7 linked regions of the Homo sapiens genome follow. The protein of the gene in region 1 interacts with the protein of each later gene in a pairwise test. Each region holds a gene or a part of one and is shown on either strand. Other genes may lie near its edges.

The links.
Region 2: the proteins of MEOX1 (region 1) and HOMER3 interact in binary tests that used the Homo sapiens proteins (3 or more experiments, as listed by UniProt).
Region 3: the proteins of MEOX1 (region 1) and MEF2A interact in binary tests that used the Homo sapiens proteins (3 or more experiments, as listed by UniProt).
Region 4: the proteins of MEOX1 (region 1) and INPP5J interact in binary tests that used the Homo sapiens proteins (3 or more experiments, as listed by UniProt).
Region 5: the proteins of MEOX1 (region 1) and TXNL4B interact in binary tests that used the Homo sapiens proteins (3 or more experiments, as listed by UniProt).
Region 6: the proteins of MEOX1 (region 1) and PM20D2 interact in binary tests that used the Homo sapiens proteins (3 or more experiments, as listed by UniProt).
Region 7: the proteins of MEOX1 (region 1) and CACNB3 interact in binary tests that used the Homo sapiens proteins (3 or more experiments, as listed by UniProt).

Annotation. Positions count from the first base shown.
Region 1 is NC_000017.11:43,639,889-43,642,405, forward strand, and holds the end of MEOX1 (homeobox protein MOX-1), read right to left. Parts: intron 2,145-2,517; coding exon 2,022-2,144; 3' UTR 501-2,021; downstream 1-500. UniProt on the Homo sapiens protein: Mesodermal transcription factor that plays a key role in somitogenesis and is specifically required for sclerotome development. Required for maintenance of the sclerotome polarity and formation of the cranio-cervical joints.
Region 2 is NC_000019.10:18,931,218-18,934,717, reverse strand, and holds part of HOMER3 (homer protein homolog 3), read left to right. Parts: intron 1-307; coding exon 308-415; intron 416-1,672; coding exon 1,673-1,794; intron 1,795-2,585; coding exon 2,586-2,742; intron 2,743-3,092; coding exon 3,093-3,209; intron 3,210-3,306; coding exon 3,307-3,393; intron 3,394-3,500. UniProt on the Homo sapiens protein: Postsynaptic density scaffolding protein. Binds and cross-links cytoplasmic regions of GRM1, GRM5, ITPR1, DNM3, RYR1, RYR2, SHANK1 and SHANK3.
Region 3 is NC_000015.10:99,708,984-99,712,483, forward strand, and holds part of MEF2A (myocyte-specific enhancer factor 2A), read left to right. Parts: intron 1-1,650; coding exon 1,651-1,777; intron 1,778-3,406; coding exon 3,407-3,500. UniProt on the Homo sapiens protein: Transcriptional activator which binds specifically to the MEF2 element, 5'-YTA[AT](4)TAR-3', found in numerous muscle-specific genes. Also involved in the activation of numerous growth factor- and stress-induced genes.
Region 4 is NC_000022.11:31,125,966-31,129,465, forward strand, and holds part of INPP5J (phosphatidylinositol 4,5-bisphosphate 5-phosphatase A), read left to right. Parts: coding exon 1-45; intron 46-328; exon of another isoform or gene 329-410; coding exon 411-524; intron 525-647; coding exon 648-756; intron 757-955; coding exon 956-1,072; intron 1,073-1,391; coding exon 1,392-1,567; intron 1,568-1,809; exon of another isoform or gene 1,810-1,985; coding exon 1,986-2,097; intron 2,098-2,248; coding exon 2,249-2,358; intron 2,359-2,505; coding exon 2,506-2,689; intron 2,690-3,500. UniProt on the Homo sapiens protein: Inositol 5-phosphatase, which converts inositol 1,4,5-trisphosphate to inositol 1,4-bisphosphate.
Region 5 is NC_000016.10:72,087,489-72,090,620, forward strand, and holds part of TXNL4B (thioredoxin-like protein 4B), read right to left. Parts: coding exon 3,130-3,132; intron 2,690-3,129; exon of another isoform or gene 2,601-2,689; intron 1,651-2,600; coding exon 1,499-1,650; intron 1-1,498. UniProt on the Homo sapiens protein: Essential role in pre-mRNA splicing. Required in cell cycle progression for S/G(2) transition.
Region 6 is NC_000006.12:89,152,555-89,156,054, forward strand, and holds part of PM20D2 (xaa-Arg dipeptidase), read left to right. Parts: intron 1-488; coding exon 489-631; exon of another isoform or gene 632-635; intron 636-2,193; coding exon 2,194-2,348; intron 2,349-3,500. UniProt on the Homo sapiens protein: Catalyzes the peptide bond hydrolysis in dipeptides having basic amino acids lysine, ornithine or arginine at C-terminus. Postulated to function in a metabolite repair mechanism by eliminating alternate dipeptide by-products formed during carnosine synthesis.
Region 7 is NC_000012.12:48,817,260-48,821,295, forward strand, and holds the start of CACNB3 (voltage-dependent L-type calcium channel subunit beta-3), read left to right. Parts: upstream 1-1,236; 5' UTR 1,237-1,670; coding exon 1,671-1,715; intron 1,716-1,786; exon of another isoform or gene 1,787-2,683; intron 2,684-4,036. UniProt on the Homo sapiens protein: Regulatory subunit of the voltage-gated calcium channel that gives rise to L-type calcium currents. Increases CACNA1B peak calcium current and shifts the voltage dependencies of channel activation and inactivation.

The sequences.
Region 1 (2,517 bases):
AAGACATTGCTCTCCAGCCTGGGCAACAAGAGCGAAACTCTGTCTCAAAAAAAAAAAAAAAAAAAAGACAAAATATGGGATATTTTTTCTTATGTCATTTTTTACTACTATTAATATACATTTTTCTACCTTGAAAAATAAAATCTCCAAACTTTGAATTTAAACATTAGGGATGGTTACTTTGTGGTCAAGATTCCTTTATTAACAAAAGAGTTCATCTTTTGTTTATAAAACATTGACTATTTGATAGGTCATAGTTTAGGGAAACTGAAAGCTAAACTTTTACAATGAGAAATGAAGACCATGCATTTGCATTGGAGAAAAATTTTTTTTTGGCACCAATTATATTTTGTACCCACCTTTTGAAAAACTAAAGGGGGACAGCTCTGTCTAGATCATTTCTTCCCTTTTTCTCTTGCTTCTAGACATTGTCTGGTCAATCAGAAGGTTGCACACAAGAGCTGTGGTTGTTCGCTCTGCAAAGAAAAAGGCCTGGGAACTTTGCTTTTTATTGATTTTATTTCTCCGAGAGTTTTCTTACAAAGTGAATTGAGCTCGCACAATTAGCTTGATGTAATCTTAAGAAAATATATGAAGTATGCTTTAGAAAAAATCATGCTCTAACCAGCCATCTCATTTGGCAATCATTTTCCACAGCTCTTGCCCTTTTTGGGGTGGGGAGGTGGGGTTATTTTTACATGTGAATGATTACATCTGCGTACAAGAGATCCAAACTCACGTTGACCTCCCTCTGCAACACCAGCTGGTGTTGGGAGACAGAGCGCTGAGGCAGCCAGGGCTTCAGTCCCCCATGCTCTTTGGCCATCAGTCCTCAAATGTCATCTCCAGAAGACCTGGCTGAGGTCTGGGCAGTCCACACACAAAAACCTAGCATTTCCTCCCACAATAACAGCATTTGTAGAACACACAGCAAGAGCTTAAATCCATCCCATGGAGGAAGAGGGATTTTCTTGTCCCCTTTTGCAGTCACAGGACACTGTCACTGGAGAACCTTCCACTCCAGGGTTCCACATCTCCAGGCCCTCACCCAGCAGCCCTCCTTATTATCTCCCCTCCCCTCCAGAATGCAGGGGACACTTTCCAGCCTCTACGTTGTTTTCAGCTCCTAGTTGTTCAGCCCAACAACTCAGCATCTGGACAGGTTTTCAATCCAGAAATCGTGGATTTAAAAGGAGTAGCTGCTCCTTTTCTCTGGAGCACAGCCCAACAGCCCCTGCTGTATCCCTAAATTGATTTTGATTTTGAAGCAGCAGGTGCTGTCATGGGTTCATTCTTGTCCACCCAGTCAAGCCTGTGTGGACGGGCCTATATGGGGACACCGAAACCTACATCGGGCTATTTTTCTGTCTTCTCTAGTCAGTTCTCAGAAGTGTCTCCACTTAGCCAACAAATTTGGAGACAGGGATGTGTTTCTGGCTTGCAGCAGCTGAGTTGCTGTCCTTGACTCTCCTCATTCTGATTTTTCTTGGGGTTTCGGGACAACTAAGGGGCCCCAAAGCCTCAGATGTGCAGCCTACAGAGGAAGGTGGGCAAGGGCGTGTGTCTCTGTCATTTCCTTCCTTTTGAAGCATTTACTTTCCGAGTCGCCAGCTGGTTCCAAAGCTCCTCTCCCACCAGGCCAGGTGGTGTCCAGACCAGGAGGAGGCCTGGCTGACCTAGGAGAACAGCGGTAGGAGGAGGCATGGGTGGCAGCCAAGAGACGCTGAGAAGCAGTATCTCTGAAGCTGTTTCCAGATTCATCCGGCCCGGTAGGATCTCTGTCTGATTCCATGAGAGTGTGGGAGCAAAGGCCCTAGGGAAGAGGCTGCTAAGAGGCTGGACAGAACTTCCTAGAAAATCCTAAGACTCCCAGGAATGCTGGGCAGTTTCATATCCAAGAGTCAGGGAAAGATGTGGAGAGGCTGCCCTGGCTGGGGAAGGAAGAGGGTGAAGGTGGGATTGGGGTGGGGGTAGTTGGGTAGGGGGCTCAGTCCTTAGTCATTTTTCCTCCATGCAGAATCTCACTCTGAACTTGGAGAGGCTGTGGAGTCCCCATCCTCAGGGTCCTGCCCATTGGGGGAGATGGGCTGACCTCCCTTCACACGCTTCCACTTCATCCTTCGGTTCTGGAACCACACTTTGACCTGGGGGAGGAAGCAAAGGAGCCTGGTCACTCCAGGGCCGGTGTGACCTCCTCCCCATGTCAATGCTTAGGCTAGCCAGGGTGTAACTCCAGGGACCCCAGCTTGAAACCATCACTTACCACTCCCTACTCCCTCAAAGGCCCCAGGAACTAGGACCGAAGAGAGGACATACCAATCTGCCCAGAGGTCTGTCTTGTGGCTTCGGATAAAGCCCCAGACGGGGGAACATGTTCTAAAAGCACTCTGCATTGGCCCCACCCCCTTCACATGCCCTGCCCTGCCTGTGCCAGGTCCCCCTGCCCCCTACCTCCATTCCCCAAGGGTCTGGGAGCAGAGGTCATCAGCCTTATCCTTAGGCACATTTATAGAGCAC
Region 2 (3,500 bases), on another chromosome or scaffold:
TGAGCCGAGATCATGCCACTGTACTGCAGCCTGGGTGACAAAGTGAGACCCTTTCCTAAAAAGAGGACATGGGAATTCCTTTCCCTTTCTCAATGTGGCCCAATGTATTTAAATGCCACCTCTGTGATCTGATGCCACCTGCCCACCCACCATGGTACATCATTTTTCAAAGTTTCTCTCCTTCTTCCAAGGTGTGTGATAAGGGGATGGGTACGGTTCGAAAGTGGCGGGGCTGTCACTGAGTGATGGTGACCTGTTTGGGAGGATGGGCTGGGGTTTTACTGTCTTTTCCTCCCCACTCCCTTAGTTTGCCGAGAAGTTCCAGGAAGTGAAGGAAGCAGCCAGGCTGGCCAGGGAGAAATCTCAGGATGGCGGGGAGCTCACCAGTCCAGCCCTGGGGCTCGCCTCCCACCAGGTCAGCACTCCCTACTCCCCTATGCCTGCCTGGGCACCTGTGAGTCAGCCAGGCGCTCAACTGATATTGGGGGACCTTGATATTGGGAGACCGGGGCACTCTGCTGGTCGTCAAGACCCAATGCTTCCAGATGACCTAAGGTTAGACCCACAGCAGGGACCACAGAGGAGTGGTGTGGAGTGTGTCATAGAGGGTCTGGACCTTGCCTGGGGCCGGTGGGGTACACCCAGTAGGTCCCAGTAGCAAAACCAGCTCAGATGGCAGGATGGAAGACTAGAAATTGAAATGGCTAAGTGTGGCCGGGTGCGGTGGCTCACGCCTGTAATCCCAGCAATTTGGGAGGCTGAGGAGGGAGGATGACTTGAGGCCAAGAGTTCGAGACCAGCCTGGCCAACATGGTGATACTCCACCTCTGCTAAAAAATACAAAAATTAGCCAGGCGTGGTGGCATGCGCCTGTAGTCCCAGCTACTCGGGAGGCTGAGGCAGGAGAATCGCTTGAACCCAGGAGATGGAGGTTGCAGTGAGCCGAGATCGTGCCACTGCACTCCAGCCTGGGTGACAGAGTGTGACTCTGTCTCAAAAAAAAAAAGAAAGAAAGAAATGGCTAAGTGTGAGGCAGAACAACGAACTGTCCCTGCGTGTTTTCCCACATTAATTTATTCAGCATTATTTATTGAGCACCTGCTGTGTACCAGGCCGAGGGCTGTGCACAGGGGTTGGAGAGATGAAAAAAAGCATGAGCCTCCAGCTGCTGCCTGCACTGGGCTGCGGTGGCGCTGGCCTCTCGCAGGGCACCCGCCAGCTTGTCTACCCTCAGAGCCAGTGGTCCAGGCAGTGGGGTTGCTCACGAAACACGAATTCGGCCTGGGCAGGGCTTCCTGCTGAAATCCTAAACGTGATGTTGAAGTTCGGCCTCAGGGAAGGGAACAGCAGGGAGGTGTCCGATTGTACCCCTCCCCTACCTTACAGGTTCTAAGTATCTTGGTTTAGACTAACCTGCATCAGACTTGCTCCTGGGGGTGGTGAAAGCCCAGGAAGGCAAGGTCGAGGGCGTGGGCATGGAACTCCCAGCTTAGGGGCCACAGGGAGCCATGGAGGGTGGGTGAGGTGGGGAGGGACACACTTGGATCCTGTGCTGTGAAGGACCTGCTTAGGGTGCATAGGTCAATTGCACCCCCGATGTGACGACCCCAGTCACATCAGCCTTGATCCCAGCTGATGTGGGGTCGTGACCTATTCTTTTCCCCGTGCCTAGGTGCCCCCGAGCCCTCTCGTCAGTGCCAACGGCCCCGGCGAGGAAAAACTGTTCCGCAGCCAGAGCGCTGATGCCCCCGGCCCCACAGAGCGCGAGCGGCTAAAGAAGATGTTGTCTGAGGGGTGAGGGGCGGGACTTGGGGGCGTGGCAGGGGCGGGGGTAGGGGTGGGGGACGAGGAGGCGGTTCTTGGAAGCCAAGGGAGTGCCAGGACGGCGGGATCTAACTGTGGACTCAAGACCTGGGGAAGGGGATGAGGATCTGAATGCTGCCCCATCCAGAGCCGACCCCGCCCCTACCCTGCGTTGGCCACGCCCCTCTGTTTTGACCCCATCCCTGTCTCTTCTCGCTGCTAACCTCGCCCCGTCGATGCCTCTCTGGTCTTAGGATAACCACCCTGACCACGCCCCCATCGGCTGACTCTCCCCAACCTCCCATCCCTCCCTCAACATTCCCACAGTGTCACTGGGCGGACTCCACGTGCCCCCTTCTTTGACTCGGTCCTCGACAAGACCCCGCTTCTGCGGGACTGCCCCATCCCCAAGCTCAGCAATCAGTGTCGCCACATCCCCAGCCCTGCGTGGCCCTGACTCCGTGCCCTAGCCCAAAGCCACCCCTCCTCTGGCCCCGCCCCCTAGCCCAGCATCGCCCGTGACTCCGCCTCAGCCCAGCGCCACCCACCCTGGCCCCGCCCCCTAACCGAGCATTGCCGCTGACTCCGCCCCCAGCCCAGTGCCACTCCACCCCTGCCCCGCCCCCTAGTCCAACTTCGCGCACGACTCCGCACCCTCGCCAGCCTTCGCCCTGACCTAAGCCCAGAGCTATCCCACCCCTGGCCCCGCCCCCTAGCCCAGCATCGCCCGACTCCGCCCCCCAGCCCCGTGTCACCCACTGCCGACCCTCGTGTCTCTGCAGCTCCGTGGGCGAGGTACAGTGGGAGGCCGAGTTTTTCGCACTGCAGGACAGCAACAACAAGCTGGCAGGCGCCCTGCGAGAGGCCAACGCCGCCGCAGCCCAGTGGAGGCAGCAGCTGGAGGCTCAGCGTGCAGAGGCCGAGCGGCTGCGGCAGCGGGTGAGGGCACCCCTCCCTCCGAGAGACCCCCACCTGGCCCGGGCAACTGTGGAGACCGCGCCTCGGCAGTTCCCATCTGCCCTGGGTTCATGGACTAGCTGTGTGACCTCAGCAGGTCACTGACCCAGCCTCAGTTTCTTGCTCTGTAAAATGGGTTTGAGACAATGCCAGCCTCAGAGGGTGATCAGACACTAAAGTCCAAGCTGTGCAGAGGGGGGTGGTGGCACCAACCAAGGGAGATGGGTGCTCGGTCCTGGGCGTGGCCAGACAGGAGGCAGATTCCCTAGAGGTTGGGCGAGCAAGGGAGAGTGCAGGCGGGGGCGTCAGGGGCTGCTATTCCTGCCCTACAGGTGGCTGAGCTGGAGGCTCAGGCAGCTTCAGAGGTGACCCCCACCGGTGAGAAGGAGGGGCTGGGCCAGGGCCAGTCGCTGGAACAGCTGGAAGCTCTGGTGCAAACCAAGGACCAGGTGAGTGCCAAGTGTGGTTCCTGGGCCTCGCCTTCCCTCACCTCCTGTGGGAAAGCCAGGACCCCCGCAACAGACCCTGGGAACTCTTCTCCTCTAGGAGATTCAGACCCTGAAGAGTCAGACTGGGGGGCCCCGCGAGGCCCTGGAGGCTGCCGAGCGTGAGGAGACTCAGCAGAAGGTGCAGGTGTGTGTGGGCACAAGGAGGTGGGGTGACGGTGGGTGACAGTCACCTCAACAGACACTCAGGACAATATCTACCTAAGATGATAAAGTATTGGGAGGCCCAGTCCT
Region 3 (3,500 bases), on another chromosome or scaffold:
AGAGCATTGGGGAGCCATAAAAAACTTTTGAAGTAGAGGAGTGCCATGACCATATTTGTTATTTTAAAAAGATGTCTTTGCTGTATATAGGGTTAAAAGGCAATGCCAGGAAGCCACATCAGAGGCTACTGTAGTGGTCCAAGCAATGGGTGCTGATAGCATAGACTAGAGAGGTGGCAGTAGAGATGGTGAGACCTGGGCAGGCTTGAGAGAGAGCAGATAGAATTGCTCAGACCTGGAAATTGATGTTGGGAGTGAGAGGGAAGGGAAGTAGCAAGGATAACACCCATGGGCTTCTGCACGAGCTGCTGGGTGCATGTTGGTGCCATGTACTAAGAGTACTTAAGGAGGAACAGGTTTGCAGGAAAGGATGGGCCATGTCAGATGTGTGGCGTTTGGAGTGGCGTCCAAATGGACATGGCACTAGGTCGTTTAAAAGATCTAGAGGTCGAAGGAGACTGTGGGCCGGAGGGAGCACTGGGGAAGGCGTCAGTGTGACGGGTCCTTGCCCCAGCCCATGGGAGTGTATAGAATGACAAGGGCAGAGTCAGGACAGCCCTGAGCACCAGCTGTGTCGCTTCAACTCCGTTCCTTTTTTAAAATGTTAATTCACTAGGAAGACCAATTTCTTTAAACACCTCTCTTGAGACATGAGAAAGAAGATAAAAGTAGAAGAGTTTTGCCACCTCTCTTTGGAACCAAGTGAGAAAGACAAGTGTTAATGATGAGCTGAAATAACTCCCCGTGTGAGTGATAACTAACGTCCTAAATCTTGGTCCCAGTGATTACGACTGAAGCATTCATATGATATGAGCTGGGTATACTCTAGGACACCGAGTTTTTTCATGAAGTTGAAACTCTTGCATGCTGTCAGGGAGTTTGCGACAGTCTAGGTACTTTAAACAAATGCGCTTACTAATTGTGTAATGATGTCACTGAGCTTGGCACCCCATGTAGGGATTCTGTCTTTCCTGTCCCCTATTCCCTGTCCCCCAACCCCTTGCTTCATTAAGACTTGCTGATTCAAACTCACTCTGGTTGAGGTTGAGTGTTTCTCTTTGTTCCAAAGGGTAGTGGCAGGCATATTTAAAGTAACAATTGTACAGAACACTCTTTAATGATGGCCTCTTATTTGAATCATCCCAGACAAAGAAATATTGCTAGATCCTGTAAATCTTCCAAGAAAAGATTTTGCGGATTTTAGACCCACATGTATGTTGTTTTGTTGTGAAGTATCTGGCTTCTCTCAATGTAGGAACTTTTTATTTTATTTTTTTTTGAGAGGAAGTCTGTTGCCCAGGCTGGATGGAGTGCAGTGGTGCTACCTCGGCTCACTGCAGCCTCTGCCTCCCGGGTTCAAGCAGTTCTCCTGCCTCAGCCTCCCAAGTAGCTGGGACTACAGGCATGCGCCACCACGCCTGGATAATTTTTGTATTTTTAGCAGATACGGGGTTTCACCATGTTGTCCAGGCTGGTCTCAAACTCCTGACCTCAAGTGATCCGCCCATCTTGGCCTCCCAAAGTGCTGGGATTACTGGCATGAGCCAGCATGGCTGGCCTCAATGTAGGAACTTTTGCAGTAGCTACGTAAAAAATAGATTCCGTATGGACCTTCCATCATATGCAGAGCCCTCTTGTCTTCCTTTGTAGATTATTCACTGACCAGCGCTGACCTGTCAGCCCTTCAAGGCTTCAACTCGCCAGGAATGCTGTCGCTGGGACAGGTGTCGGCCTGGCAGCAGCACCACCTAGGACAAGCAGCCCTCAGCTCTCTTGTGTGAGTAACTAGAAGTTTTCCCTGCATCTTTACTCCTGGCCTACACACTCTCTTTTCCTATCAGTGACAGCCTTTTGCTCTGTTGAGTTTCGTGTGAGGAATCCTGTAATGATTCCTTTTCAGGTAGATACAAGTGTCGGGAGAAAATATTTTCTTACATGGCTCTAGACAGTAGCTTGGATACTGACAAACTAGGCATTCCTTGAAGGGATTTGGGGAGCAAGGCTTCTCCCATAGGGACATCCTGAGGTAGAGAGACTCAACCAGGATCTGAAGGGGTCTGAAGGCACAGATACCACCCGCATGCACCATCCTTCTGCCCTCTGACCAGTGATGAAGCTGCCTACTGCACCCCTGCTCCCAAGCACCTGCCTCTGGCTGCACTGCTTGAAAGGCAGCCTGTAGGCATTCAGGCCTCCCTGCCACCCTTGCCATTGACTGCTTTGGTGAGTATCTGTAGACAAGAATAGGAAGACAAGCTGGAGCTTTTGCTTTCTCCCTGGGCCACAGGGAAGGAAAACTGGGGACAGGGTGTCTTATATATCAGTCAGGCTCCATAGGATTTGTGTGACTGATCCCAGCCCAATGCACACACCAAACCTCATTCACAAAGAGAATGTTCCGTATGGGCAGGGTGTAAGGATATAAGCAAAGAGGATTTACAGTGGCGCCCAGATGAGGCCAGACATCCCTGACAGCCGGGAGAAAGAACAGGGCTTTTGTGGAACCAGGATGACAGCAGACCCATGGAGCAGTTGGAGGAGAGTGTCCCAAGAGAGGGGACAACATAGCAGACCCAGCTGGCCTCCATGAAGACTGGCTGCCTTGCCTGTGCTCTGGGCAGTAGGAATACCCCAGGCCCCTAGCCTCTGCCCAGGAAGTCCCCAGAGAGCCTGAGCTCAGCAGTCCCTTTCCCTCATCCATTCTGAAGTAACTGCACAGTGAGGATTGTTGTCAGTGGTCTTCTTAGGAATTATGTCATGGAAAAAGCAGCAGAGTATCTCAGGGAAATTTGCCTACACAGGATTTGGCCCTCAGGCCTGTCCTGAGCATCCTAAATGAATGCACTAAAAATAGTCCTGGAAAAGCAAGTGGAAAGGGCTCAGAGCCCAGGCCCGGGGAACAGCCTGTTTGCGTCCTCCTCTACTGCTCTCAGCCAGCCCCTCATTTCCTCATCTGGAAAATGGGGATGGTGCGACTTGCACCTTAGAGGTGTTGCGAGGATGAGCGATGTTGTGCCCTGTCACAGGGCCAGAGCAGATGGGGAGCAGATGCTGAGGAAGAAGAGGCGGTGAGCAGATGAGGCTGCTGTTCCTCTGTCTTTCTGGTCCCTGCACAGCATTAAGACACTGACATTGTTTTGTATACTTTAGCTGCAAAAGTACCAACGTTGTGGGTAACAGAACCAAGTAACGTAAGGGCTCAACGGTACTGTTTTCTTTCCTCCTAGGAAGATGGGATTTCCTTTTGTGCCAAGCACTGAAGGAAACGACCCAAACCAGTCTTGGGGAACTCTGATAAGATTTCAGACTCTGGGCCCTTTTCCATCAGGCAGTGTCTCTACTGTATCATCCCAGTTTTGCAGAGGTACTTGCAAGCCATCTGACCTCTCTCTTTTTTTTCCTTCAGTGCTGGAGGGCAGTTATCTCAGGGTTCCAATTTATCCATTAATACCAACCAAAACATCAGCATCAAGTCCGAACCGATTTCACCTCCTCGGGAT
Region 4 (3,500 bases), on another chromosome or scaffold:
CCCTTGGTCAGCTCAGCCTACCTGGAAGAGCGACCCCGGCTTCCGGTGAGGGGGCCCTCTCCCAAGAAAGGTGGCTGGGGCTTAGCTCTGAGGTTAGCCATTCTTCCAGGGTGGATGGTGTGCTCTACCTCAGCTTCTCTCTCTGAGGAAGAGTCTTTGGGGAGGGGGTTGCTGGGCCCACTCTGTGACGCTCAGAAGATAGCATCCCCTCCTAAGGAACTTGCCGCCTCTCAGTTGATCTCCCCAGGGAGAGTGTGGCAGAGGGACAGGATTCGGGGCCTCCTGTGGGTCCTTCTTAGGGCTTTGGCCCACACCTGCCTCCATTTAGTTCCCCAGGGAGTCCTGTGAAAGGAAGCTTGAGGGTGAGGGAGTGGTGCCAGGACTACACCCTCATATGCCCCTGCCCTCAGGATCACTGTGGTCACATGGAACGTGGGCACTGCCATGCCCCCAGACGATGTCACATCCCTCCTCCACCTGGGCGGTGGTGACGACAGCGACGGCGCAGACATGATCGCCATAGGGTGAGGTGGCAGGGCATGTGGACCCCCTCCTGAGCCCCTCGGGCCTTCCGGGCCCTCCACCCATGGCAGGGGCTTCCAGGGCACCTCTCCAATCCCATGGCCACCCTGCCCCCACCCCTCCAGGTTGCAGGAAGTGAACTCCATGCTCAACAAGCGACTCAAGGACGCCCTCTTCACGGACCAGTGGAGTGAGCTGTTCATGGATGCGCTAGGGCCCTTCAACTTCGTGCTGGTAACGCACCCCTCACCCCCTGGACAGCCAGAGACCCTGCTGAATTCCTGGCTCCAGCTGTACCCTGGCTCACTGTGGGGCCCGCTGGGCCTCTGTGGCTGGGTCCGTGACATGGGTGGGTGGAGGAGCAGACCTGAAGGTGGGCGCGAGGGCGGGGGAGTTGTGTTCTGTCCCCCAGCCACGTGGCCTCCCGCTGCAGGTGAGTTCGGTGAGGATGCAGGGTGTCATCCTGCTGCTGTTCGCCAAGTACTACCACCTGCCCTTCCTGCGAGACGTGCAGACCGACTGCACGCGCACTGGCCTGGGCGGCTACTGGGTGAGCCTGTGAGCAGGCCCAGAAGAGGATGGGACATGAAGGGGGCTTTAGATTAGTCCCCCCGCCCCATGCACAGCAAGGTCCCCTTCCCATCCTCCACCCTTTACCCTGCGGCCCAGCCCCCCCATGCACCACCCAATACCCCATCCTATTCCTCTATACCCCCGCCCTTTTCTCTCCCCACTGTGTCCCAGCGTTGTTCCTCATTTCTGTAGGACCCACCCACCTTCCACCCACATCTCCTCTCTAACCCCCGCTCCCAGTGCCTCACCTCCTGGCCTAAGCCCCGCCCATGAGCCATCCGACCCTGCCTCCCTAGGGTAACAAGGGTGGCGTGAGCGTGCGCCTGGCGGCCTTCGGGCACATGCTCTGCTTCCTGAACTGCCACTTGCCTGCGCATATGGACAAGGCGGAGCAGCGCAAAGACAACTTCCAGACCATCCTCAGCCTCCAGCAGTTCCAAGGGCCGGGCGCACAGGGCATCCTGGATCATGAGTATGGGCTGGGGTGGGGCCAAATAGAGCTTGGGTGGGGCTAGTGATGGGGGTTTTTGTACCACCTTGGGTGGGGCTTATGGAGAGAGGCAGGGCCTATGGGGTTTAGTGCCCACCCAAACTAGTTGTAGGAACACGAAAGCAGAGAGCAGTTGGATGGGGAGGGGCGGAGCTTGTAGGGTGGAGCTTTGCTGAGGGGCCCCGCCTTGCTGAAGGTCAGAACCTAATTTCCTGTAGACCGGTCCCTCTGCTTTTCCTCTGCCCTTTGGTGGGCTGGAGGCTCTGGCACCACTCACCCACTCACTACATCCCCTCGGGTTGGATGGGCTGGAAGGATCTGGGCTGAGCCCTTATCCTCCATGGACCTGTTGACACCCCCCACTGCCCCCCACATCTCTCCCATCCCCCACCCCAAACAGCCTCGTGTTCTGGTTCGGGGACCTGAACTTCCGCATTGAGAGCTATGACCTGCACTTTGTCAAGTTTGCCATCGACAGTGACCAGCTCCATCAGCTCTGGGAGAAGGACCAGGTGGGGTCCTTGTCCCCAGAAGCACACAGAGCATGTCCCAGGACACGCCTGTACCTTAGACTATGGTCCCTGTCCTCACCTGCCCCACCCCCTCCCTGGGCACAGCAGAGCCCAAGCTGTTGTCCAATCTGCTCTCCTGGACCCCCCACAGCTCAACATGGCCAAGAACACCTGGCCCATTCTGAAGGGCTTTCAGGAGGGGCCCCTCAACTTCGCTCCCACCTTCAAGTTTGATGTGGGTACCAACAAATACGATACCAGGTGAGCTCAGTCCGAGGAGGGACTGAGGGGAAGTGGGCTGAGGTCTTCTCGAACAGGGAGACTTTGGGAAGAGGGGCAGGAGGCAAGGTGGAGGGTTACATCTTGATCCCCAGCCCCTGAAACTTGGGGTACCCCTGCTCACTGCAGTGCCAAGAAACGGAAGCCAGCTTGGACAGACCGTATCCTATGGAAGGTCAAGGCTCCAGGTGGGGGTCCCAGCCCCTCAGGACGGAAGAGCCACCGACTCCAGGTGACGCAGCACAGCTACCGCAGCCACATGGAATACACAGTCAGCGACCACAAGCCTGTGGCTGCCCAGTTCCTCCTGCAGGTGAGTTCTGGCCTCATCCTCCCCGCATGAAATCCCCAGGCCCAACTCGGCATACCACTGCCCCTCACCATTACCCTTTGTATAACCCCTTGTACCTGCCCTCAGCAGCATCCATTTGTTGTAACAGTGGAAATGGGGTTGCAATCTACATTTTCAGATGAGGAAGCTGAGGCTCAGACACATGGCATCACCTGCCCAGGGTCACCCAACTAGTAAGAGGAACAGTTAGGATTTGAACCCAAGTGAGTCTGGTTTCAGAGCCCATGCCTTTTCTTTTTTTTTTTTTTTTTTTTTTTGAGACAGAGTCTCATTCTGTCACCCAGGCTGGAGTGCAGTGGCACGATCTTAGCTCACTGCAAGCTCCGCCTCCCGGGTTCAAGTGATTCTCCTGCCTCAGCCTCCTGAGTAGCTGGGATTACATCACCCGCCACCACGCCAGGCTAATTTTTGTATTTTTAGTGGAGACAGGGTTTCACCATGTTGGCCAGGCTGGTCTTGAACTCCTGACCTCCTGATCCACCCACCTTGGCCTCCCAAAGTGCTGGGATTACAGGCGTGAGCTACCGTGTCTGGCCAACTTTTTTTTTTTTTTTTTTTTTCTTTGAGACGGAGTCTTGCTCAGCCGCCCCAGGCTGGAGTGCAGTGGCACAATCTTGGCTCACTGCAACCACCATCTCCTGGGTCCAAGCGATTCTCCCGTCTCAGCCTCCCAAGTAGCTGGGATTACAGGCACCCGCCGTCATGCCCGGCTAATTTTTGTATTTTAGTAGAGACAGGGTTTCACCGTGTTGGCCAGGCTGGTCTTGAACTG
Region 5 (3,132 bases), on another chromosome or scaffold:
ACATCATATTAAAGTCCTGGAAGTGTAATTACTGGGTTAAAAAGTTTAAAAACTTTAAACTATTTGATACATAATGTTGAACTGGCCCCCATAAAAGGTTGTACCAAATTAATACTTACATCAAATGTGTTCCAGTAGAATAAACAGCTTTAAAATACTTTTGTGTTTTTTTTTTGTTGTTGTTGTTGTTGTTTTGCGATGGAGCCTTGCTCTGTCACCAGACTGGAGTGTAGTGGTGCGTTCTCTGCTCACTGCAACCTCCACCTCCTGGGCTCAAGCGAATCTCCTGCCTCAGCCTCCTGAGTAGTTGGGATTACAGGCACCCACCATCATGCCTGGCTAATCTTTTTTTTGAGACGGCAGCTCTGTTGCCCAGGATGGAGTGCAGTGGCGCGCTCTCGGCTCACTGCAAGCTCCGCCTCCTGGGTTCATGCCATTTTTCTGCCTCAGCCTCCAGAGTAGCCGGGACTACATGCGCCCGCCACCACGCCCAGCTAATTTTTTGTATTTTTAGTAGAGACAGGGTTTCACTGTGTTAGCCAGGATGGTCTCGATCTGCTGACCTCATAATCTGCCTGCCTCGGCTTCCCAAAGTGCTGGGATTACACGCGTGAGCCACTGCGCCTGGCCATGCCTGGCTAATTTTTGTATTTTTAGTAGAGATGGGGTTTCACTATGTTGGCCATGCTGGTTTTGAACTCCTGACCTCAAATGATCCGCCTGCCTTGGCCTCCCAAAGTGCTGGGATTACAGGCGTGAGCCACTATGCCCAGCCTAAAACACTTTAAAACAGATAATATTTCACATACTTTCAAATAAAGACAAAAAGGGTACACAGATCTAGATAAGTGGACACATCAACCACAGTAAGAAATGATCAGAATCATGGATGCACCCAATCATCAATATTAAGTATTGAGATGGTAATTGGATGGAGTGGAAGGCACTAAAGAGGACATCATGTTACTTATTCTTGACAGGCTTTGTTGAAGAATGATTTAAAATTCAATGGCGAAAAGCAGGAAACTTTGCAAGAGAGAAGCACATCTTAGTTTGCTAGAAGGAATGTTTCTTTCATAAATGCCACTTACCAGTCCAAAAGCTTAAGAAAAACTACATGTTTTGTTTCAAATGAAATTCCTGGGAAAATTTTAAGAGTTCTTTATTTAGCTAATATGGCTATTTTATATTTTATAGACTTATGGATGGTAGTGCTTTGCCACCTGTACTATTTCTTCATACTTAAGTCGGAAATTAAAATTTGACAAACCATGTGTATGCACTATTAAAAAAATAAATAAAATTTGACAATCATACCAGAAGCACTCTCATTTTGTAGCAAGGTTTTGCATAAAAAATTAGAGAGTGCGTCAATTGGGGAAACAGTACTGATATAAGACTCACAGAGCCAACATCACATGGAAATAGGCAAGCTACTGAAAATGCTTACCAAGGAAACTTACAAGGTTGCAATTAACTTCAGATCAACTGCACTTACCCATAATCCACTTTCATATGCTGCCCATTGAAGAAAAAGACAGTAGATGGAATATAACTGATGTCAAAATACTGTGTATAAACTGCAGTTTGGTCCACATCTACCAGGTATATAGCAGCCATTTTACTTAAGTCAGAAGAGGTCTTAGAAAGCTGCAAATGACGAGAGAGACAAAGGTTACAATATGAGAGGCAGCTTAATGTTTCTTCTGTGAAACTTGTTACTACAACAGAGTGTTTTGTTTGAAAAAACTCCTGGGCCAACAATGCAGCCCATGTGGCTCCCACATTAGACAAAGCATAACCCCATCCTCCAGAGTCTCATTCACTGCAACGGGGTTAGGAGGGAATCTTGGGGAAAACTGTATGAGGTTAGGAAGGGACCTTGGGGAAAACTGTGTGAGGTTAGAAGGGGACCTTGGGGAAAACTGTGTGAGTTTAGGAGGGTGACAGCATGGGAGTATTCCTGTCTATTCATTGTGGAGAGAGACCTAACCCAGAACTAAGACCTCTACCCGCCATTTCTACTGCTGCCATCCCGTGTTAAGAGCTGAGCATACAAATCCTTGGGGAAAACTGTGTGAATCTATTTCTTCCTTTAATTTCTTTCTTTGAATGCTTTTATAAAAGTAGCCCATGCTCATTTAAAACAACACAACTTAGAAATATGTTATGTGGATACTGAAATTCCCTAACGTCTCCTTCCTCCCAATCCTCCCAGAAATGAAAACCACGATAATTAGTAGCAGACACTTATATAACATTACTATGTGGTAACTGTCCTAAGTGCTTAACATTTGTTAACTCATTTAATCCTTACATCATTCTTATAAGGTATATGCTATCAGAGTCCCCATTTTATAGATAGGGAAACTGAGGCACAGGAAGGTAAAGTAATTTGCCCCAGGTCACACAGCTCCTGAGCAGTAGGGCTGGGGTTTGAACTTTGGCAGTGTGGCTTCAGTGTCTACATCACTGACCTCTGTGGTATTTCCTCCTGCTTATGACTGAGGGTAGAATCCTCTGGTCCTTTTTTCCCCAAGCTAACACATCACACCCTCATTGTAACCACGGAAATGAGGATTTGTACGCTCAGCTCTTACACGGGATGGTAGCAGTAGAAATGGCGGTAAGAGGTCTTAGTTCTGGGTTAGGTCTCTCTCTGCATCAGGCACATACTGGAGGCAGCACACTAGAAAAGATTATTTGCAGCTACAGAAAACTGAGTTCAAATCTCAACTCTGCAATATAGTGGATCTGCACCTGTGGGAAATTACTTGACCTCTCTGGTTTTTTTTTTCCTACTGGGAAATGGGGCTACTATTATCCCACTATTGCGAGCACTGAAAAGATAGTGTTCACAGATGCTTGTTAATAGTTTTCTGCTCTTCCATCACCTTGTTGGTGAAACAGCATTGACAGCTTCTAGTGGGTAAGGACATCCAAGACAGATTCAGCACACACAGATTTGGGGGCTTGGTTCAGGGCAGGCACACAATCAGCTCTTAGTGAACTAACAAATGAACAGCTATATACCCAACCCTGACTACTCCCTCTCATGTACTACTCAGATGCTGAAGTGAGAATATACAGATTATTAATAAAAACCAATTATTTTAGACATTCACTTACAAT
Region 6 (3,500 bases), on another chromosome or scaffold:
GGTATCTTGTGATAACATTGAATATAATCTGATTTTCAGAGGTTGTCTTAACCCACTTCAAATAGTAACTCCTTTCTGGCTTTCCTGACCTTCCACCTCTTAAGACAGAATTTCTGATTTTTTACAGACTTTTGATAATAGAATCATCACAATGCTGTGTAAAAACATACAGGATCCATTTTTTTTTTTTGTAATTTCAGCACCTGATACCATATTGCATGTTTGCATTAGATTGTGTATACATTTAATCTTTTCTCTTTTTCTCTCTTTTTTGGGAATGCTTTCTTTGTGTCAAGCACTATGTTACCTAATAATAAACTATAACTAACATAAATAAATTGCAGTGTTATTACTACAAATAATTTGCAAATCAAAAGTCCAGCAATGTGAATTAATTTTGAATAGTAGTTGGGTAATTCTGACTACCTGGATTTTCTTACTTTAGCAATAATAACAAAAGTAATTTCAAATGATTTTTTATTTCCTAGTGTGACTGTGAAATACTATGGAAAAGCATCTCATTCTGCTTCTTATCCCTGGGAAGGATTAAATGCATTAGATGCTGCTGTGCTGGCCTATAACAATCTGTCTGTGTTCAGACAGCAAATGAAACCAACCTGGAGAGTTCATGGTATGAATGTCAAATACCTTCTATAATAGATGGTGCTTGCTATAGTTCAGTGCAGTATAATTATTTAATATTCAATTTTTAAAAATTTGGAAATATTTTTGTACTTCATATGAATATTCTGATTTTTAAGCATATTTTCAGAAATTCATGTGACAGGATACTAAGATGTTTGTCTATATAGGGTTAGAAAGACAGTTTTGATTATTGTACATAAATGGAATGTCATCTTTGAGTATCAAAGATAAAGGTTTTATGTAAGGGGCTGTGTTCTTTCGGTGGGTGTTTGAAAATTGGATCTTGATTTTCCAGTTGTCCTCATTATTTCTTAATGATAACCAAATTTTGTCAATTAAAAAAAGGTATAATAACTGCTAGTTTTATTTAAGTGCTGTTAGTCCTGAGTAATATCTTTTTGTGTGATTTTTTGTTTTTGAGACAGTCTTGCTCTATTGCCCAGGCTGGAGTGCAGTGGTGCAATCTCGGCTCACTGCAACTTCTGCTTCCTGGGTTCAAGTGATGCTCCTGCTTCAGCCTCCCAAATAGCTGGGATTACAGGCAGGCAGACACCACCAAACCCAGCTAATATTTGTATTTTTTGCAGAGACGGGGTCTTGCTATGTTGGCCAGGCTGGTCTCAAACTCCTGGCCTTAAGTGATCTGCCCACCTCAGCCTCCCAAAGTGCTGGGATTACAGGTGTGAGCCACCATGCCTGGTCCTGAATAGTGTCTTTTAAAATTATATATATATATCACCATAATATAAATACAGTCAAAGTACTGTCTTGAAGGCACACATTTGTTTAATTTATTTCCTTATGATTTAGGAAATTGTTATATTTTAATATCTATTCTTTACCTGATTTTGCTATAGCCTGAGGTCAATTTGTAATTGTACTTTTACCAGTTTTCCTGCTTTAGTTTCTTTAAAAGGAACAAACAGGAATGTGTAGAAATATTTTTTTAAAGTAGGTCATAGGACATTGGATTTTTTGTATCTATTTTAGTTATTACTTCGAATGAATAAATCTTAATTCTTTATAATTCCAAATAAATACATTTGTTTTGACAGTTGATAATACTTAGTGATCTTTGACCTGCATTGGTTTTTTTCTTGGCATGAAAATTATTTTTCCTATAGCTAAATGCCATTTAAAATGCTCATGGGATTCCTGAGGTATGAGGGTAATTATAGAACCTCATACCATTGTTGAGGTATGGTAAAATCTTTTCCAGAAAGCTTAAGATGTTACTAATTTTTTTTGTGGTTATATAATTTCTAAGTTTCATTATAGTCTGGATCATAATTTCTTAACATTATGTAAATTCTTCTGAATGAAGTGCATATGGATAATTATTTTTTCTTATCAGCCAAAAAATATCACCCTATGTAAAGAAATTTCAGTTGTACAACATAACAAAATCTTTGATTGGTGTATTGGTGGAGCTAGTGAGTTTAAATTATTTTTCTTTATGAACATATTGGCTGAAAAACTTAATGGGTGTATTTAAGCTTAAAGAAATGGTCACCAAGCTTAATTCTAGTAATTTGGTTCTTTTTATAGGTATAATAAAAAATGGTGGTGTAAAACCCAATATCATTCCCTCTTATTCTGAATTAATCTATTACTTCCGTGCACCCTCAATGAAAGAACTTCAAGTTTTGACCAAAAAGGCAGAAGATTGCTTCAGAGCTGCAGCTTTGGCTTCAGGGTGCACAGTAAGAACTTTTAAAAGTTAATCTAAGTTACAATCAGAGGTATATATGTGGGCTAGCACTGTTAGATTGAAATCTAACTTGACTCTCTTATTTGGTGACATGTTGAATATGCAAAATGAATTGGCTGAATAGTTAATGTGAAAGTCTTTAATTTTTACACGTTTCATTCCTCAGTGCTTGCAATAGGGAAGATGACAGGTCATCTTACTTATATAGTAATTAGAATAATTCTGATACTTCTATGCTAGAATCCCTGCCTTTTTACAAGTTATATTCTTCCTTGTCGGCAGTTATACTTTTAGAATTGCTATATGTAGTTTCTATAAAGGAAAGTTTATGGCAAAATCAGCAAAAGCTTTTTTTTTTTTTTTTTTTTTTTTTTTGGTGGGGGGACAGGGTGTTGCTCTATTGCCCAGGCTGGAGTTGCAGCGGCACGATCTTGGCTCACTACAACCTCCGCCTTCCAGGCTGAAGCAATCCTCTCACCTCTGCCTCCCACCTCAGCCAGCTGAGTAGCTGGGACTACAGGCACGCACCACCACACGTGGCTAATTTTTTGTATGTTTTTCTGGAGACAGGGTCTCACCATGTTGCCCAGGCTGGTCTCAAACTCCTGAGCTCAAGTGATCCACCCACCTCGGCCTTCTAAAGTGCTGGGATTATAGGCATGAACCACCTCGCCCAGCCAGCGAAAGCCATTTCTGAAGTTAGGGTGTGTATAGTAGTGATATAAATACTATGGCTTGCTGGAATGGAAGATAAAATAGACACAGAAGTTAGTTAAGAGGTTTTATTGATTTGTTTCTGTTTGTTTGTTTGTTTTTGAGACAAAGTCTTGCTCTATTGCCCAGGCTGGAGCGCAGTGGTGCAATTTTGGCTCAACGCAACCTCCTCTGCCTCCTGGGTTCAAGCGATTCTTATGCCTCAGCCTTCCAAGTAGCTGGGACTACAGGCGCTTGCCACCACACCTGGCTAATTTTTTTTTTTCTTTTTTTTTTTTGAGGCGGAGTCTTGCCCTGTCACCCAGGCTGGAGTGCAATGGCGCAATCTCAGCTCACTGCAACCTCTGCCTCCCAGGTTCAAACAATTCTCCTGCCTCAGCCTCCTGAGTAGCTGGGATTACAGGCGCCTGCCTCCACACCCAGCTATTTT
Region 7 (4,036 bases), on another chromosome or scaffold:
GGTGGGAAGCCACTTGGTTTGGGTGGGCTTTCTCTCTCCCATGCACAGTGCTTTCTACCATAGATCTTACTAAGCCATGTCAGAGTTTTGGATTTCTGATTCTCCTCAAGCCAAGGAGGGATGAGCAGATTGCTGAACTCCCGGGTGTGAGAAATTGGGAAGGAAAAGGACTGAGCTCAGGGCCAAGAGCATGGGCACCAGGAGGCCTCCAAGTGTAACCCCTGTCTACGCACATCCTCCTCGTGGGGCACAAAGGTAGGCAGTCAAAAATCAAAGAAGGAATTTTGCTCAGGAGATGAAAAAAGGAAAGAGCTCAAATGGGTGGATCTTTGGGGAAAGTTTCCTCAAGATAAGGGCTGCGGCTCTCTTACCCCAAATCTCAATGCTCCTGTAAAGGAGACTGAGTGGTGCAGAGTGGTACAAGCCCTTCTGCTAAGGGGAGAATCTGGCCTTACCCTAGTGACTCCGAGGAGACTGGCCCTTTCCTCTCCCAACCCGAGTGTAGCCAGGATCCCACCCACAACTATCCCCCTACCTCCACCCTCTGGCTTCTTTCCCCTTCCCTTTAGGCTCACCTAAAACAGCCCCTTTCTGCCCCAGTTCCCACGGATGCCTTGGCACTGTCTGGCACAATCCTTGGCAGGGAAGTGGGGAAGGGAACCCCCATCCTGGCAGGACTAAGACAAAATCTATCCGTGCAACAGGTGTGGGGAGGCCTACCCAGCTCACGGAAAGTTCCCCCCTTCTCAAGGGTTGGGCAACACCGCCTTTGCCGCAGCGTCCCCGTACTGAGGGGGCCGGGCACCTGTTGGGGCAGGAGCTGCCGTCCTGTCATTAGCCTGGGGGCACCAAGCCCATTCCTCCCCGGGACCACTGCGGGGTTTGCTTTCGGAGCCTCCGGGACGCACGGGCCCAGACCCGCCCTGCTGTCGCCTGGGACCCCTCCCCCGTCTGCCGCTCGTTCCCGCGCCTCTTCTGTCTCCCACGGTCTCCCCATTTTCCTGTCCTCTCCGTCCTCCCTCTGCCTCTCTCTCTCCGGTTTCCTCGACACCTGCGCCCTCTCCAGTCTCCGCCCGGGTCGCGTCTCCCTCGCGGTCTCAGCGCCCCCTCCCTCCCCCGCCGCAGCCCTTTGTTTCCCGGCGGAGTAGTTCCTGGGTTGCCGAGCGTCTCTGTCTCCGCATCTCTCCTCGCCCCGCCTCCTCCCTGCCTGGATCCGCCCTGCCCGCAGCCTCTCCTCCCCTTCCTCCCCGCCGCCACGGCCCCGTAGGTGCTCGGGGACCCACCTTCCACCTAGCACGGGTTCGTTCCCCTCTCCCGGCCTGGCCCGGGCTCCCCGGTGGCCGCCGCCCCCTCGCCGCCCCCGCCTTCTCCCGGGGAGGGGGTCAGGTGGGCGGGCACTATTGTTGTAGGAGCCGGCGCCAGATTCCTCAGCCGCGCTCGGGGTGGGACCGGCTGGGTTTGGGGGGGTGGGGTGGGGGGAGCGGTGATCTGAGCTCCGAGCAGCTGGTCTTCGCGGCTCGCTCCCTCCTTCGCGCTCTCTCGCTCCCTGCCGCCGCCCGCAGGGCTGCGGGGCTCGGTGGCATCTCCCGGGCGCGGCCCGCAGTCCTTGCCCCTGCCTCCGGGCCGCTCCCGCCCCCGGCGCCGCTCGCTCCCCCGACCCGGACTCCCCCATGTATGACGACTCCTACGTGCCCGGGTTTGAGGACTCGGAGGCGGTGAGTGCCCACGATGAGGGTGGGGGCGGGGAAGTTGGGGTGACACCTCCTCTCCCTTCAACCCTTTCCCCGGTTCAGGACTTTGAAAAACGCCTCAGTGGCAGGGCAGGGTTTGTAGGGGGGCGCTCTAAGAACGTGGGGAGATGGATTTTCATGCCAAGCGTTCCCCAGCGACCCAGACTCAGACCCTGGGGCATCGGGTGTGTGCAGAGAGGGGGCAGTATAGGGGAAGGGCTCAAGCAGGTGGCTCCACGGCCCAGGAAAGAGGGGTGGGAGAAGGCAGGGCTGGAGGCCGAGGGCACAGAGGCTCTGGAGAGGGAACACGCCATGTCTGGAGTTCCAAATTCTGGATTTCTGGGGTCTGAACACAACAGCTAGGAGAGCCGCCGAGGTGGTTGGGGAGGCAGACATTCTAGACCTCTTGTGCCTCAAGCAAACGACACATCAGGGAGCTGAGAGGACATCAGGGAGCCAGGGGCCAACCTCTTCAGACAGACGGATCCTAAAACTTGAGGAGCTCCATTATTCCCTTCCACCCCCTCCATCTCTGCGCATTGCCTCATCTCCTCACCCTTTCTCTAGCCCAGTTTCTCTCCCAGGCTGAAACCTGGGCGCCCAGCACATGGGTAGGCCAGGTGACTGAGCCCCATCTATTCCACAGCCCCCTGCTGAGGCTTCCTCTGCAGCGGGCATCCTGAGCTCTTGCCCAGCATGGAGGGCCTGGAGGTGAGGCCAGAGGAGCTGAGGGCCTGGGGATGGAGAGGAAGCGCTTTGCTCAGAGAAACAGGCAACCGATAAATATTTAATTCTCCTCTTTGCTTTTATCTCCTGACCCACTGAGACAAATCAGCTCATTAAGCAGTGATTCCCGGAGCTCAGACAGCAGGGAGAGTGCCTGGAAAGATGGGGCAAGAATGCGGAGCAGCTTCTCAGCCCCTTGGAGCTGACAACTTTCCCTCAAATGTCCTGTAAGAAGGCCTCCTTAGGAGTGGACCACTAGATGGCTTGGAAGGGGCCCCAATAGGTTGGAGCACCCCTGGGTCGGAAAGAGGAGTTCATGTTCAAGTCTTCTCCCATCACTTACTGCCAGGCCCAGGATAGATGAATGCTGATGTTCAGAATAGGCAACTGTCCTTTTCTGGGACTGGTCTCCTTCTGGGCCCAATTCTCCATGGGGCCTCTGGGGCTAATTACATTGCCGCTAGATCAGATCATTTTCAAGGCTCTGGTGGACACCTCTTTCTGACAGTTGAAGGGACAGCTGGTATAGCCCAGGGTGCCAAGGTGAGCTTGAAAACAAACCTCTCTGTGGGGCTGGATGGCCCTAGGAGGTTCTTCCCATCCCTGGTGAGAAGGCAAGGGCTATTGCAAGGAGCAGACTGACATGTGGATGGTGTTGGAGGGCAGCCTGCTGACCCATTGCTCCCTCCCATCTCTCTCTGGCTCTGATCACCCTCCCCCACTTCCCTTTCTCTTGCCTGGCTCCTTGCTCTCCCTGAGGCCCCCTCTGAAGCAGTAGGAGGGAGATCAGGCTCTAAATAAATCCAACGGCTCATCTCCCTCCTCTCCTTCCCCCGTGCCAGGCAAGAGAGGAGCTGCAGCCTGCCCACACACTCACTAGGCAAGGGGGGCACCACCAGGGCACTGTGCCAACTCCTGGCAGCTCCAAAGTACTGAAACTCTGGCTATTTTGGCGTAGCAGGGTACAGGAAAGGTAAGACCCTAGATCATGCTTGGCAGGGCAGCCCTGGCCTCCCCAAGTAATACTGGAGCACTAGAGATGAGTGAGCCTGGAGGACTTGGGAGTAATGGAGAGGGGGTTCCATTCTGAGCACAACTCATTAAATATTTAGGAAGAGATCCTGTGATTCCCATCCCAGGGTGAGAGGTCAGGTAAGCCAGATGCCTCAGGCGTTATGATTACTAAATTAGGCCGCCAGCGGTGCCTCACACCTGTAATCCCAGCACTTTGGGTGGCCGAGGTAGATCACTTGAGGTCAGGAGTTGGAGACCAGCCTGGCCAATATGGTGAAACCCTGTGTCTACTAAAAATATAAAAATTAGCCCAGCATGGTGGCACATGCCTGTAGTCCCAACTACTCAGGAGGCTGGGGCAGTAGAATTGCTTGAACCCGGGAGGCAGAGGTTGCAGTGAGCCGACATCGCACCATTACATTCCAGCCTGGGCATCACAGTGAAACTCCATCTCAAAAAAAAAAAAAAAATTACTAAATTAAACCAGGCATAGAGACTCATGCCTATAATCCCAATGCTTTGGGAGGCTAAGGTAGGAAGATGGCTTAAGCCCAGGAGTTTGAGAC